3 separate regions of the Homo sapiens genome follow, and regions 2 and 3 are each linked to region 1. Evidence: fine-mapped expression QTL. A gene starts in region 1. Each other region holds a variant in brackets. All regions are shown on one strand. Distances are from middle to middle.

Region 1 (4,232 bases):
GACCTGAATAGTCTTTGACTACCAGTTTAATTTCTCTAACACTCACTGGACTATTCAAATTCTCTCTCTCTCTCTCTCTTTTTTTTTTTTTTTTTTTTTTTTGAGATGAAGTCTCCCTCTGTCACCCAGGCTGGAGTACAATGGTACGATCTCGGCTAACTGCAACCTCCACCTCCCAGGTTCAAGCGGTTCTCCTGTCTCAGCCTCCCAAGTAGCTGGGATTACAGGTGTCCACCACCACACCCAGCTAATCTTTGTATTTTTAGTAGAGACAGCGTTTCGCCATGTTGGCCAGGCTGGTCTCAAACTCCTGACCTCAGGTGATCCGCCTGCCTTGGCCTCTCAAAATGCTGGGATTACAGGCATGAGACATCGTGCCTGGCCAAGTTCTCTTTCTTCTTATGTTAATTTGAACATGCTTTCGCCATGGGATGTGCCTGCTCCCCTTTCACCTTCCGTTATGAGCATAAGCTCCCAAGGCCTTCCTAGAAACTGAGCAGATGCCAGCACCGTGCTTCCTGTAAATCCTGAAGAACTGTGAGCCAATCAAACTTCTTTTCTGATAAATTACCCAGTCTCAGGTATTTCTTTATAGTCATACAAGAACAGCCTATTACAATATATGGGTATATACATGAATGACAAAGAATGTCTCCCTGATCAGACTCTGGACAGCCTCCTCCGAGCTCTCTGCACGACTGGGCCCAACCTGGGCATTCCTTCCTCTGTTCCTGCAGAGTCTAGTTTTAGCAAGAATCCTGCTAAGTCAGTTTAATCCCAATTCCCCACCTCAGGTGTCTGAATACCCTCCATATCTGACCAAATTCCAACACCTGCTCCACCCCACCCCCATCCCCGATGTGGATCAACTTGGCCCACCCTCAGCAGGAATCCTGTTAGGTCAGGGAAGCCAGAACCCCCACTTGATGTCCCCTTCTCAATGACTTTCCATCCACCGTCCCCCACACTGCTCCTTGGCTATAAATCCCCACTTTTCCTTATTATTTTCGGACCCCAATCTCTCTCCCCTGCTGCAAAACCTCAGTGCAGTCCCTTACATCTAAGGAAATGGTTCTGAATAAAAGTCTGTCTTACCGTTTTTAAAACGTCAGAATGTTTTCAGATACGTGTGTGTATATATCTCCATATCTGTAAATATATATAAATATAGATATAGATATCTCCGAAGAGAAGGTTTTCCAATGTGCACTTTTTCTTCTTGCACATTGCGATCTTAACCCTCAAGCACATCTGGAAAAAGCTTCCATGAGGATACAGCCTGGGATGGATTTGTGGGCGAGGTGTAGACCACGATACCGGGTAACGTGCCCTGTGTTTTCTGGACACAGAACTGTAAGATTTCAAAAAGACCCAATCAATGATTCTAACCCAACTCTACATATATTTACTCAAACACAGTATTCCTCCCTGACTAGTGGTTAACGGACTTGCTTTAGGCGGCCCCAGAGGCGGTGGCCAGTTTAGCCACCTCCCGAGGAACCTGCGCAGTCCCGACGCTCACCAAGCGCTTTCCTGGCGGTTACAGGGTTGGGGGCAGCGCAGAACCCGCTTCTGCCCTTATCAGGAGCCCGGACCTGAGCTGGACTCCACCACCTCGTCCCCACCCACCCTGGAAGCCAGAAACCCCAAGCATCCTCCCTCCCTCCCCTGCTGGCCACTACGAATAAACCAGACATACAATTCGCGCCTAACGGCTTAGCCAGAAATGCCACCCGCAGTCGGGCCCCGGGCCGGAAACCTCCCCGACGCGGGGCCGCGTGCAGGGGAAGGGGCGGGCGCAGGCTGCGGGGTCGGCACGGAAGATGCACGCGAGGCTCCTGGGGCTCTCGGCCCTGCTGCAGGCGGCCGAGCAGAGCGCGCGTGAGTGCGGCAGCCCGAGGCTGTGCTCACCCCTGCAGCCCCTAACCCCACCCCGGCGCCGGGAGCCGCACAGGCTGCCTATGCCCGGGCGGGCACTGCCCCAGCCTGCGCCCAGCACTGCGCGCCGGTGACGCACGGTGGTGGCCATCCCACCTGCAGAGCACGTCCTCCCGTCCTTAGTAGATGCCCACGCATGCACCATCCCCCCAAGGATGCATGATTTTCCTCCACCCATGCTCGGTTCCCCCCCCTCCCGACTGGTGCTTGACTTCCTCCCGCCCATGCACGATCCCCCCGCCCCACGCATGCAAGATCCCCTCGCAGAAGCAGGGGAGATGTATCCGCCCTTCCTTCCATCACAAGCTTTGCAAAGTGCTGCGATGCCAAGATGTGCTGAGCGCAAGTCTGGGGGCGCCCGGGCTCTCCCCCGACCCCCGGCCGTCCAGGGGGACCCTGCGACTTGGAGGCCGCTCGCAGAAGGGGTGGCGGGGGGAGGGGGACAGGGCTCCGCATCCACGCGGCCCTGTAGGACGGCGACTCCGCTTCGGGGTTTAGGACGGGGCGGGACGCGGCCCTTCGAGGCCACCTCCGTCGCAGGGGGAACCCAGAGCCCGCCAGCCGCGGCGGAGCAAGATGGCCCCATTTTTCGCGCCCTTCTGGTTTGAACGCGTAACTCCTTCAGTGCCGGGAGGAGCGTCTCCGCCCACTTCCGCCGGGCTCCCTGCGGAAGCTTTTTCCCGGGCAGAGTCCCTGGGGTGGAAGAGGGGGTACCCTGGGAACGCCGCCTTGGGACTTTTCCCTGAGTTCGCGGGCGTCCCCGCAGGTCCCGCTGCTTCCGAGGCGCGCCGAGCAGGACGCACACGGAGGACGCGCAAGCGCCCTGGCTCCGCGCCCCGGACTGGAAGGGCTGAGACAGGACCTGCGGGGGTCGGCACCCACCCCAGGTGTCCTCCCTTGCCCTCCAGCTGGGCACGGACTGGGTGTCAGCATTCCCCAGCCCTGCAGCACCGAAGGCTTTTCGTGCAAGGGAGGCTGCCGCAGGACGCTCGGGGTGGTGACAGCCGGACCCAGCCTGGGCGCTAAGGGCTGCCTGAGCCCGGACCCCGCGGTCTAGAGCTGCAGCGTCTGCAGCTGTACCTCAGGGCAGTTTTCCCAGTTTCCCTAAAATCCGCGGCTTGTGTTCATTCATCCACTTAGAACTTTACTATTGGAAAACCTAAGTAACAGTTGTGTGAAACGATGCCTGTGTGCGGTGCCTCTACCAGCGCACCGCCTCCAAGATCAGCCTCAGACAACCCTGAGGAGGCCGTGCTAGGAGTATTGGGGAGGCCCAGAGTTCCAGGCCAGGGAGTTCCCCATGTGAAAGTAGGAGAAAAGGGACCCCACAGAGAGAGCTGTGACCCCACAGGGACTAACGGTTTCGTAGTGCGGAGTTACTGACTGCGGAGTGCACATTCTCTCTCCACTGCGTAACCACCATCAAAAACAAACAAGCAAACAAACCAGAGAGGAGGTTTCATCGTTCTCGAGGATGCACAAGATGCTAGGCGCTTCACACATGTCGTATATTGCCCAACAGCTCTGGAAAGCCCTGACAATGTCATTTAGTGAATGCCTGTCCCTGTTGCCAGAGGCTCTGCTGGCTCCCAGCCTGCTCCTAGGAGACTCTTGCTGGTGATGGGGACACTGTGTTGGTTGGTTACTGTTTTGTTTTGTTTTGAGACAAGAGTCTTGCTCTGTGGCCCAGGCTGGAATGCAGTGGCCCAATCTCGACTCACTGCAAACTCCGCCTCCTGAGTTGAAGCCATTCTGGTGCCTCATCCATCCCGAGTAGCTGGTATTACAGGCACGCAGCCAGCAAACTTGCTCATTTTTGTATTTTTAGTAGAGAGGCCCAGACTGGTCTTGAACTCCTGACGTCGAGCAATCTGCCCACCTCGGCCTCCCAAAGTGCTTTGGTTTTGTTTTTAATGAGATAATTAGGTGTGGCCACAAGATGAGACACAGGAGAGACTCTGGAAAGCAAAGTTTGCTGTACTCACAGGTCCTAGGACAGGAGACATGGCACACCATGCCGGGCCACAGGGGAATGTCACCAGGGTGGTCAGGAGGCAGGAGACAGGAACCAGGGGAAGTTGAGGCCAGACGCTTTGCTAGGGCAGAGCACCAGCTTCAGATTAGCCCTTTGAATAATTTCTGTGGCTTTGGGGTATAAGGGTGGTCCCTAGTTTCCTGGCACTGGGCCCTGGGATGATTAAGGCAAAAGAAGATTGCCTTCTGCGGGGGTATGGGCCAGGTAGGGGAGGTCTGGCTCTGGCTAGATTTAGTTCGCATGTCAAAGGCAAGCTCCT
Region 2 (4,232 bases), 28 kb before region 1:
CCTGGGCTTAGTCAAGTCTGACCTGACTGGTCTTCTTCAGACAAGTCACAAAAACAGGTCTCCTGTAAGGGACTCTAAAGATAGTTTTTTCTGCTGTCTCTGCAGCCCCCCAGACAGAACCCCACTTACTCTCAGCACACAGTAAGCATCCACGCTTGTTGCCAGCGGGGCTCCATCCCCACCCCAAGCCTGTGGGGCATTCTGTCTAAAGTCTCTGATGTCACTTTGCTGGGCACAGTAGACTTAGTTTAGAAATACACATTGCAACTATAAATACATTCGACTATAAATACCTGGCTTTCACATACTGGCTAATATACCTGCCTAGATAAGCTCAACTCACACCTTTAACAAAGTCGCCTACCATTTGTTTAAGGCTGCAGTCACCACAGTAATCACTGTGGCTCCCTATGGAGCCCTACTGGGCAAAGCTTAACTTTCTCCTGGTGTCTCGAATCCCACAAACCTCACATCCCATTTCACCTCCTTCGCTAAGAGCTCCTCCCCTCTGGGCCTTTCCCAGGCAGCACTCCAGCTCTCACTTTCCTTCCGCTCTGGGCACGGCTCTCTGTCCGCCAACCTGTGCCTCCAAACCCGTTCTGGGCAGTTCTCCCCTGTTAATTAGTCTTACAGAGTATTCTAAAATATATGCTCCAGGCATTCCTGGACATTTCCTAGCCAGGATATTTAAATATGTATTTGCATTTGTGAAAATAAATTACATTTAAAAGCTGTTGGAACTTCCAGGACTCCTCAAGCCTTGAGAGAGGTGTGGCTATGATCTGGGTCATGGAACATGTTTTGCAATTCTGTTGCTTGGATTACAGCTTAACTCTTCCTCATTCTTCTTTTTCTGTAATGGCTAGGAAACACCGGAGACCAGATCTCCGCCTTCTAATCACAGACCTTTGTTACAGATTTACCACCTCTTTAAGAGTCCCGACCATAACTCAGCCTAGATGGCAGTGTGGAATGTTAGATATACCTTTCCAAAAGAGGCCCCCCTCAAGTAATCAGATCATTGGAACTATGCATTAAGCCTTACACAGATGTTGAAATTCTGTGAAATTCCCCTAAGCTTTGTTTATATAAAGCAATCCCAAATCTCTACACTTGGTAACACTGACTTCCATTCTTTGGAATCTGTGCTTCCCAGAGATGTCCCGTTTTCAACCTCTGCACTTGAATAAACCCTCTGTAAACTAGTTTCTGACCCTTTCTATTATGTTAAGTTGACACATTCTCCCCTTAAACCACCGAAACCTCCTGAGCATTCTCTGCTTGCACACGCACCCTGCACCTTCTACCACCTCTCACACCTGGACCCCAGCGCAGCCCAGAGCAGCCCTGCGTCTCAGAGCACTTTGTACCCCTGGGTCTAGCAGAGTCCTATTCACAGCAGACTTTCCATGCAGACTGATAGCGACCTAACAAGGAGTGAATAACAGACCACCCCCTGGGGGTAAATCATGCTTCTGGGTCTGCTACTTGCCTAGAGGCAGTCTGCTAGTGGCAGGAAGAACAAGAGATGCAGACCCAGCTAACACGCCTGCCTCACCTCACAGGCCCTTACTGAGTCCCAACAGGGTATTATGAGGCTGATTCTAAGTGGGAAACACGCAAAATCAAATCCAGCTGCTGCCACAAGAAGAAACTGCTGCTGCCAGGTCGGGGTACACGTAGGTCAGGGGGCCTGCTCAGAGACTTTGGAGGCCTCAGGAAGCAGCCACAGGAGGAGCCCCTCCCCGCCAGCCTCCCTTGTCCCCGCCAGGCTCCCACGTCCCCGCCAGCCTCCCACGTCCCCGCCAGCCTTTCCACTCCCTGCCAGCCTCCTCCGTCCCCACCAGCCTCCCCACCTCCCAGCCAGCCTCCCTCCCCGCCAGCCTCCCCACCCTCCCCTCCAGCTTCCCCACCTCTGCACCAGCTCCCCCAATCCCCACCAGCCTCCCCAACTCCCCACCAGCTTCCCCAACTCCCTCCAGCCTCTCCCACTCCCTGCCAGCCTCCCCCACTCTCTGCCAGACTCCCCCATCCCCTCCAGCCTCTCCACTCCCTGCCAGCATCCCCACCTCCACGCCAGCCTCCCCACTCCCTATCAGCCTCCCTACTCCCCGCCAGCTTTTCCACTCCCCGCCAGCCTCCCCTCTTCCACCAGCTTCCCCTACTCCCTGCCAGGCTCCCCACTCTCCGTAAGCCTCCCTTTTCCCCACCAGCTTCCCCACGTCCCTTCTAGCCTCCCCCACTCCCCACCAGCCTCCCCCACTCCCCACCAGCCTCCCTACCCGCTCCCTGCCCTGTGGGCAGAGCTGAGCAGGACCTTCCCAGATCCGCCCCACCG[C/G]AAAGCAGGTACTGAGTAGGGAACTTGGGGCTGAGAAACAATAGCTTCGTAACCAGCCCAGTGACTCTTGCAGAAACCAGGGCAGAGTGTGATTAGACATGTCCTGTCCCGGGGCAGCCGTCATCCCATGGTTGACAACACATTTCACCCCAGAGCGTTCCTGCCTCCACCTGAGCCAGAGCTTCTAGTGTGTTTTTCCTCACCTCCCCATGTTCTGTGAGCCCAGCCCCCCTTAGATCCCCTTCCTCCAGCTACTAGAGAATCTCTCATCCAGCGACTATGACCCAGCACCAAAGCAGGTCACCGTGAACCCCACGTGGGGCAGGAAACCACAGGCTGACTCTCAAGTCAGACAGACCTGGGCCTTTGGACAAGCTGCACAACTTCTCTGATTCTTGCATTCTTGGGTGTATGAAAGTGAGTAGAATAAATGGACCCCCCCGGACAGGTGTGAGGACTCAGTGAGATAACCTTTATGTGGCACTCATCCAGCCCAGCCAGCCCCTGACATACAATCAGAACTCAGCTCATCTCAGTCTCCTTCCTCATTCTCCATCTTGCTCTTGGAGGTGTCATGGATGGGACACCTGAGTCACCTCGTCCAGCCGGCCAGCGTGAAGGAGCCTGACTGGCCCATCCACACATGGTTTCCTTGGCTGCCTCCATCTGCCTCCATCTCTCATAAGGTGGTTTTGCTCTTTCTGTGGATTGAAGAGCCTCCAACTGTGGCCTAGAGTATGGCTCAGGGCTGAATCAGAATATATGTACAAGAAGACAGAAGTCAGGTACAACTGGACACTTGAAAGGCTTTGGAGCAGAAAGGATGTCACAGTTGAAGCTGAACAGACTAGAAACCATCCAGAGAGGTGAAGGCGAAGGCCTTGGGTCCAGTTCCTCTGCCACCACCCACCTGCGTGTCTACCTGGACAAGGACTTAAAACTCTCGGGCCCTTGTTTTTCTCCCTTAAAATTATGGCAAACATGGTAATAAAACGTTTATGGGAACTTACTCGGCAAAGTGTTATAACTGATTTGACTGATGTGACTCGTTAGGTATGGGAACCCCCAAAATCTGAGACAGGTTTCAGTTAATTTAGAAAGTTTGTCAAGGTGGAGGATGCGCACCCGTGACACAGCCTCAGGAAGTCCTGACGTCATGTGCCCAAGGTGGTTGGAGCACAGTTTGGTTTTACACATTTTAGGCAGACATAAGACATCAATCAATATATGTGAAAAGTACATTGGTTCGGTCTGGAAAGATAGGACAATTTGAAGGAAAGCCAGGAAGACTTGAAGCAGGGAGGGGCTTCCAGGTCACAGATAGGTGAAATACAAACTTGCCTTATTTCGAGTTTCTGATTAGCTTTTCCAAAAGAGGCAATCAGATATGCATTCATCTCAATGAGCAGGGAGATAACTTTGACTAGAATGGGAGGCAGGTTGAATAGAATGGGAGGCAGGTTGAATAGAATGGGAGGCAGGTTGAATAGAATGGGAGGTAGGTTGAATAGAATGGGAGGTAGGTTGAATAGAATGGGAGGTAGGTTGAATAGAATGAGAGGCAGGTTGGCCCTAAGCGGTTTCCAGCTTGAGTTTTCCTTTTAGCTTAGTGAGTTTTGGGGGCCCAAGATATTTTTCTTTCCCAGGGAGCAAACCTGAAGTGGTTTCTTCTTCCAAAAACTGCTAATGGTCTCTCAGTCCAATTCCATAGATTTTTAGCAGCTTTCCATTGTTAAAGAATCTCCTTCTTTTTCCTGACGCCCCACTCACTGGCATGGGACATGACGTCAGGCTCATCCTCTCTCCTCCATCACCCCCATCAAAGCCAATATCTTTATCTTTTGAGACCCTTTTACTCAACAAGTGGCCCTGTAATGAGAGGCAGGACCGAAAC
Region 3 (4,232 bases), 69 kb before region 1:
TAGCTCTCATGAAATTTATCTCTTTAGTTATTTTGACATGGTGCTATTCAGATTTGGGGTTCTGAAATTAAATGAGAAAATACAGTCAAAGCACCCAGAATCCTAGTGGCCCCTGGTGCTCCCCACTTCTCTCCTCCACTGGTGTCCCTCCCATGGTAGAATCACTTTTAGTGGCTTCTTCACTGAAAAAGATAACTGAAGTCAAATGTTCACCCTCTCCACCACTCCCTTAAAAGATCCTGCCGTGGAAAAGATTCTGCCAGGGATCCAGGGCGCCATGGATCCTTTCATGGCACCTTTGGGATTTGGCATTTTGCAAGCTCTGGGAGGGTTTGCAGGGAATTGGTGATGTTGTGATAACAGAGGCCTGAGAAGAAGGGGTATTAGACTTCTACAGGACCCCTCTCTTCTGTGCTCATGGGTGGGTGGATGACTGGAATCGAACAGGACCACACAGTGAGTGGGCTCCAGCGGCATGCATAGCTCAACCCAGCTGTGGGTCAAGAATTACTTTAGTTGTACCGTTAAGCTGAACATGGAACTACAGCCACACTCATTCTGTGCTTATTTACTGAGCAGCTACTATGCGAAAAGTGGCCAGAGTGCAAGAACTATAAGAAATATGGCCTGGTCCCTGCTGTTTAGGAGCTCCCACTTTTCCATGTATCTGCATAGAAAGCTTTCTATTAGTTGGTGCAAACATAATTGCAGTTTTTGTATTGTGGAAATTTGCTAATTGACATTGGAATAGCTTCCTAAATAAATGTGGTTATATTATACATTTCAATGCACATTTCTCACTTTTTTTGGCTAACGGCTTGTTACTTGCTATTTATTTTATATTTATTTTGGACTATGGAAATGATGTTAGACAAAAAGCAAATTTGAGCAATTTTCTTATTTGAGTTCAAAATGCGTCATAAAGCAGCAGAGACAACTTGCAACATCAACAACGCATTTGGTCCAGGAACTGCTAATGAACACACAGTACAGTGGGGGTTCAGATGAGAAGCGTAGTGGCCGGCCACGGGAAATTGACCACGACCAGTTCAGAGCAATCATCGAGGCTGATCCTCTTACAACTACCCAAGAAGTTGCCAAACAACTCAACGTCGACCATTCTACGGTCATTCGGCATCTGAAGCAAATTGGAAAGGTGAAAAAGCTCAATAAGTGGGTGCCTCATGAGCCAAACACAAATTTAAAAAACAAAATCATCATTTTGAAGTGTCATCTTCTCTTATTCTGCACAACAACGACAATCCATTTCTTGATCAGATTGTGACATGCGATGAAAAGTGGATTTTATACGATAAGCGGTGGAGACCAACTGAGTGGCTGGACTGAGAAGAAGCTCCAAAGCATTTCCCAAAGCCAAACTCGCACCAAAAATAGGTCATAGTCACTGTTTGGTGGTCTGGTCTGCGCAGGTCTGATCCATTATAGCTTTCTGAATCCCTGAGAAACCATTACATCTGAGAAGTATGCTCAGCAAATCCGCGAGATGCATCGAACACAGCAATGCCTGTAGCTGGCGCTGGTCAACAGAAAGGGCCCAATTCTCTCCTCGACAATGCCCGACCCCAAGTTGCACGATCCATGCTCCAAAACTTGAACGAATTGGGCTATGACGTTTTGCCTCATGCACCATATTCACCTGAACCTCTTGCCAACCAACTACATCTTCAAGCATCTGGACAACTTTTTGCAGGGAATACACTTCCGCAACCAGCAGGATGCAGAAAAATGCTTTCCAACAGTTACTCAAATCCTGAAACACAAATTTTTACACTACAGGAATAAACAAACTTATTTCTTGTTGGCAAAAATGTGTTGATTGTAATGGTTCCTATTTTGACTAATAAAAATGTATTTGAGCCTAGTTATAATTTTTTAAAATTCACAGTCTGAAACCGCAATTGCTTTTGCACCAAACTAATATGAACATGAGGTCTCCCCAGCTCCTGGGCTGAGTACACACACCCTGTCAGAGGAAGACGTGAAGTGGATTCCATCACAACTGCCACACGCCTGGGCCCGGTGGAGCCAGTCAACCCAAACTTGTATTCAGTGCAGCATTTTCCCACATTTTGCCATCTGGTCTTATGCAAAACAGGTGTTGTTCTGCAGCTACAGAAAATGTGACCCGGGCACTTTGGTTATATACTCCCAGTTACTTGTCTAATAATTAGCCATGCTGGAATTCACAGTCGCAGACACTAAAGCCTGGGATTCTTGCAATGCTACAGCCATGAGCCTAGCCACACAGAAGGCACTGGGCCTTAGCCCATTTGACCTCCACAGCAACAGTCCTATAAGGCCACTGTCACCCTA[T/C]CTCCCAGGATGAGACAGAGACTCAGGGAGGCAAGTACTTGCACTCTACCTGTCCAGCTCGCATACGCCACTGGGCTAGAATTCACCTTACAGCTCTGCCCTTATGCACATCAGGGAGGAGGAAGGCAGCCTTTACACGCCACAGACTTACAGACACCATTTATAGACATTTCAGGCAGCACAGAGTGGAAGCCAGGAGGGCTTGATAGGCTTGCAGTGAGAACAGTCATCTCTGTGCCCCAGGCTGCACTCATGCCCTCAGTTCACACCAGTCCTTGGAGCGCCTACGCTGGTGACTGGGGCTGAGGGATGGTGGATGGAGGGCATGCTGGGTCAGAAAGAATCGTGGGGGGGCTTCATCCAGCCTGTCCTTTCTCTTCCCCCATCCTTTCTCTTCCCCCTGTCCTTTCTCTTCCCCCTGGGTCCCTGCTGCCCCTGGGCTCCTTCCCAGCCTGTGCCTCATCTGGGATGTGTCCTCTGAGGCAGCAACTGCCCTTGACCTTATTGTTACCTACCCTCTAGGCTCCTCTCCCAGCTTTTGCGTTTGGGTGGAGGATGTGGCCAGCAGACACCGTGATGCCTGCGTGTCTGGGCAAAACAGGGGAAGAGAGGAAATACCAGCCGGCTCAGCCTGTGTGTGTATGTGCACCCGTGGGTCAGCATGTGCATGTGTGTGTCTGTATGTGTGTGTCTCTGTGTGTCTGTGTGTGTGTCTGTGCGTGTGTGTCTGTGTGTCTCTGTGTGTCTGTGTGTATCTGTGTGTATGTGTGTCTGTGCATGTGTGTGTCTATGTATCTGTGTGTGCCTGTGTGTGTGTGTCTGCATGTGTGTCTGTGCATGTGTGTCTGTGTCTGTATGTGTGTGTGTCTGTGTGCTTATGTGTCTGTGTGTGTGTCTGTGTGTGTCTGTATGTGTGGGTGCGTCTGTATGTGTGAGTGTGTCTACGTGTGTGTGTGTGTATGTGTGGCTGTGTGTGTCTGTGCGCGTGCGTGTATACAATATTGGTGGCTCCCTCTCTAGAGAGGCCTTCTCAGACTGCCTCCTCTTAAACTAACCTCTTCATCCACTTATCCTGATTAATTTTTTACACACTTTCCCCTGCCTGACACCATATTTTACACACACACACACACACACACAGAGTTTATGGGTCTGTTGTCCGTCTTTTCCACTGGGTTAACCTATTCTAGTAAAACAGAAGTTCTAGGAGGGAAGGAACCTTGCTTGTCCTGTGACTCCATGTGATTGGCATCAGGACAGAGCCCCTGCAAGTGGAGCCAGGAAACAGGGAGGGCGGGCGCAGGGGAAGTGTCGTCCTCCAGGCTGCAGACCAAGGTCACAGAAGCCTCCCCACCCATGGCTGAGGCCTGTTGCCGAGAAGGCTAAGAAACCTCCACCAATCTCCAAGAATGGTGGCCTGCACTTCACCAAAACTGTCCAAATCCCTCACGAGTTCCCCACAGTAGTGAACCCTGACTCAGGCCCACACGTGGGAGGGACAAGAGTGTTGCTGCTGAGGGCACAGCCAGCTGGGAGACAGGAGGCTCCCAGATGCACAGCAAGCAGTCAATCAACATCCATGAATAAATGGGCAAACTAATAAGGAACCCATTGATATTTAGACTGATTCAAATGCACTAGAAAGGGCCAGGCGCAGTGGCTCACGCCTGTAATCCCAGCACTTTGGGAGGCCAAGGTAGGCTGATCATTTGAGGTCAGGAGTTCGAGACCAGCCTGGCCAACATGGTGAAACCCCATCTCTACTACAAATGCAAAAATTAATCAGCTGTGGGGGCGCATGCCTGTAGTCCCAGCTACTCAGGAGGCTGAGGCACCAGAATCGCTTGACCCCAGAGGGCAGAAGTTGCCGTGAGCCAAGATCATGCCACTGCACTCCA

Alleles and levels. Positions count from the first base shown, and alleles are read on the strand shown. Sizes are in standard deviations (SD) of each study's normalised expression. Not every link is listed here.
In carriers of allele C in region 2, the expression in esophagus mucosa of the gene that starts at base 1,763 in region 1 tends to be higher than with G alone (small effect, 0.30 SD a copy in GTEx).

The links. PIP is the estimated chance that this variant, and not a neighbour inherited with it, causes the effect. A credible set is the group of variants that fine-mapping cannot tell apart.
Region 2: its variant is the best candidate, but not a certain one, in a credible set for the expression of GS1-24F4.2 in esophagus mucosa (GTEx, PIP 0.62).
Region 3: its variant is the best candidate, but not a certain one, in a credible set for the expression of GS1-24F4.2 in sun-exposed skin (GTEx, PIP 0.53).

The regions. Positions count from the first base shown.
Region 1 is chr8:6,833,085-6,837,316 of GRCh38, reverse strand. It overlaps GS1-24F4.2 (a long non-coding RNA gene), which reads right to left and starts at 1,763. Exons shown (of 3, transcript NR_045217.1): 1 at 1,700-1,763; 2 at 1,096-1,351. XKR5 (XK related 5) reads left to right here and starts at 1,793. Exons shown (of 7, transcript NM_207411.5): 1 at 1,793-1,881. The coding sequence starts at 1,824. RefSeq lists an enhancer at 2,543-3,411.
Region 2 is chr8:6,861,190-6,865,421 of GRCh38, reverse strand. No RefSeq gene overlaps it. Among named protein-coding and RNA genes, the nearest start is that of DEFB1, 15 kb to the left of the region's middle. The variant C/G (reference allele first, on the strand shown) is at 2,339.
Region 3 is chr8:6,902,152-6,906,383 of GRCh38, reverse strand. No RefSeq gene overlaps it. Among named protein-coding and RNA genes, the nearest start is that of DEFA6, 22 kb to the left of the region's middle. The variant T/C (reference allele first, on the strand shown) is at 2,335.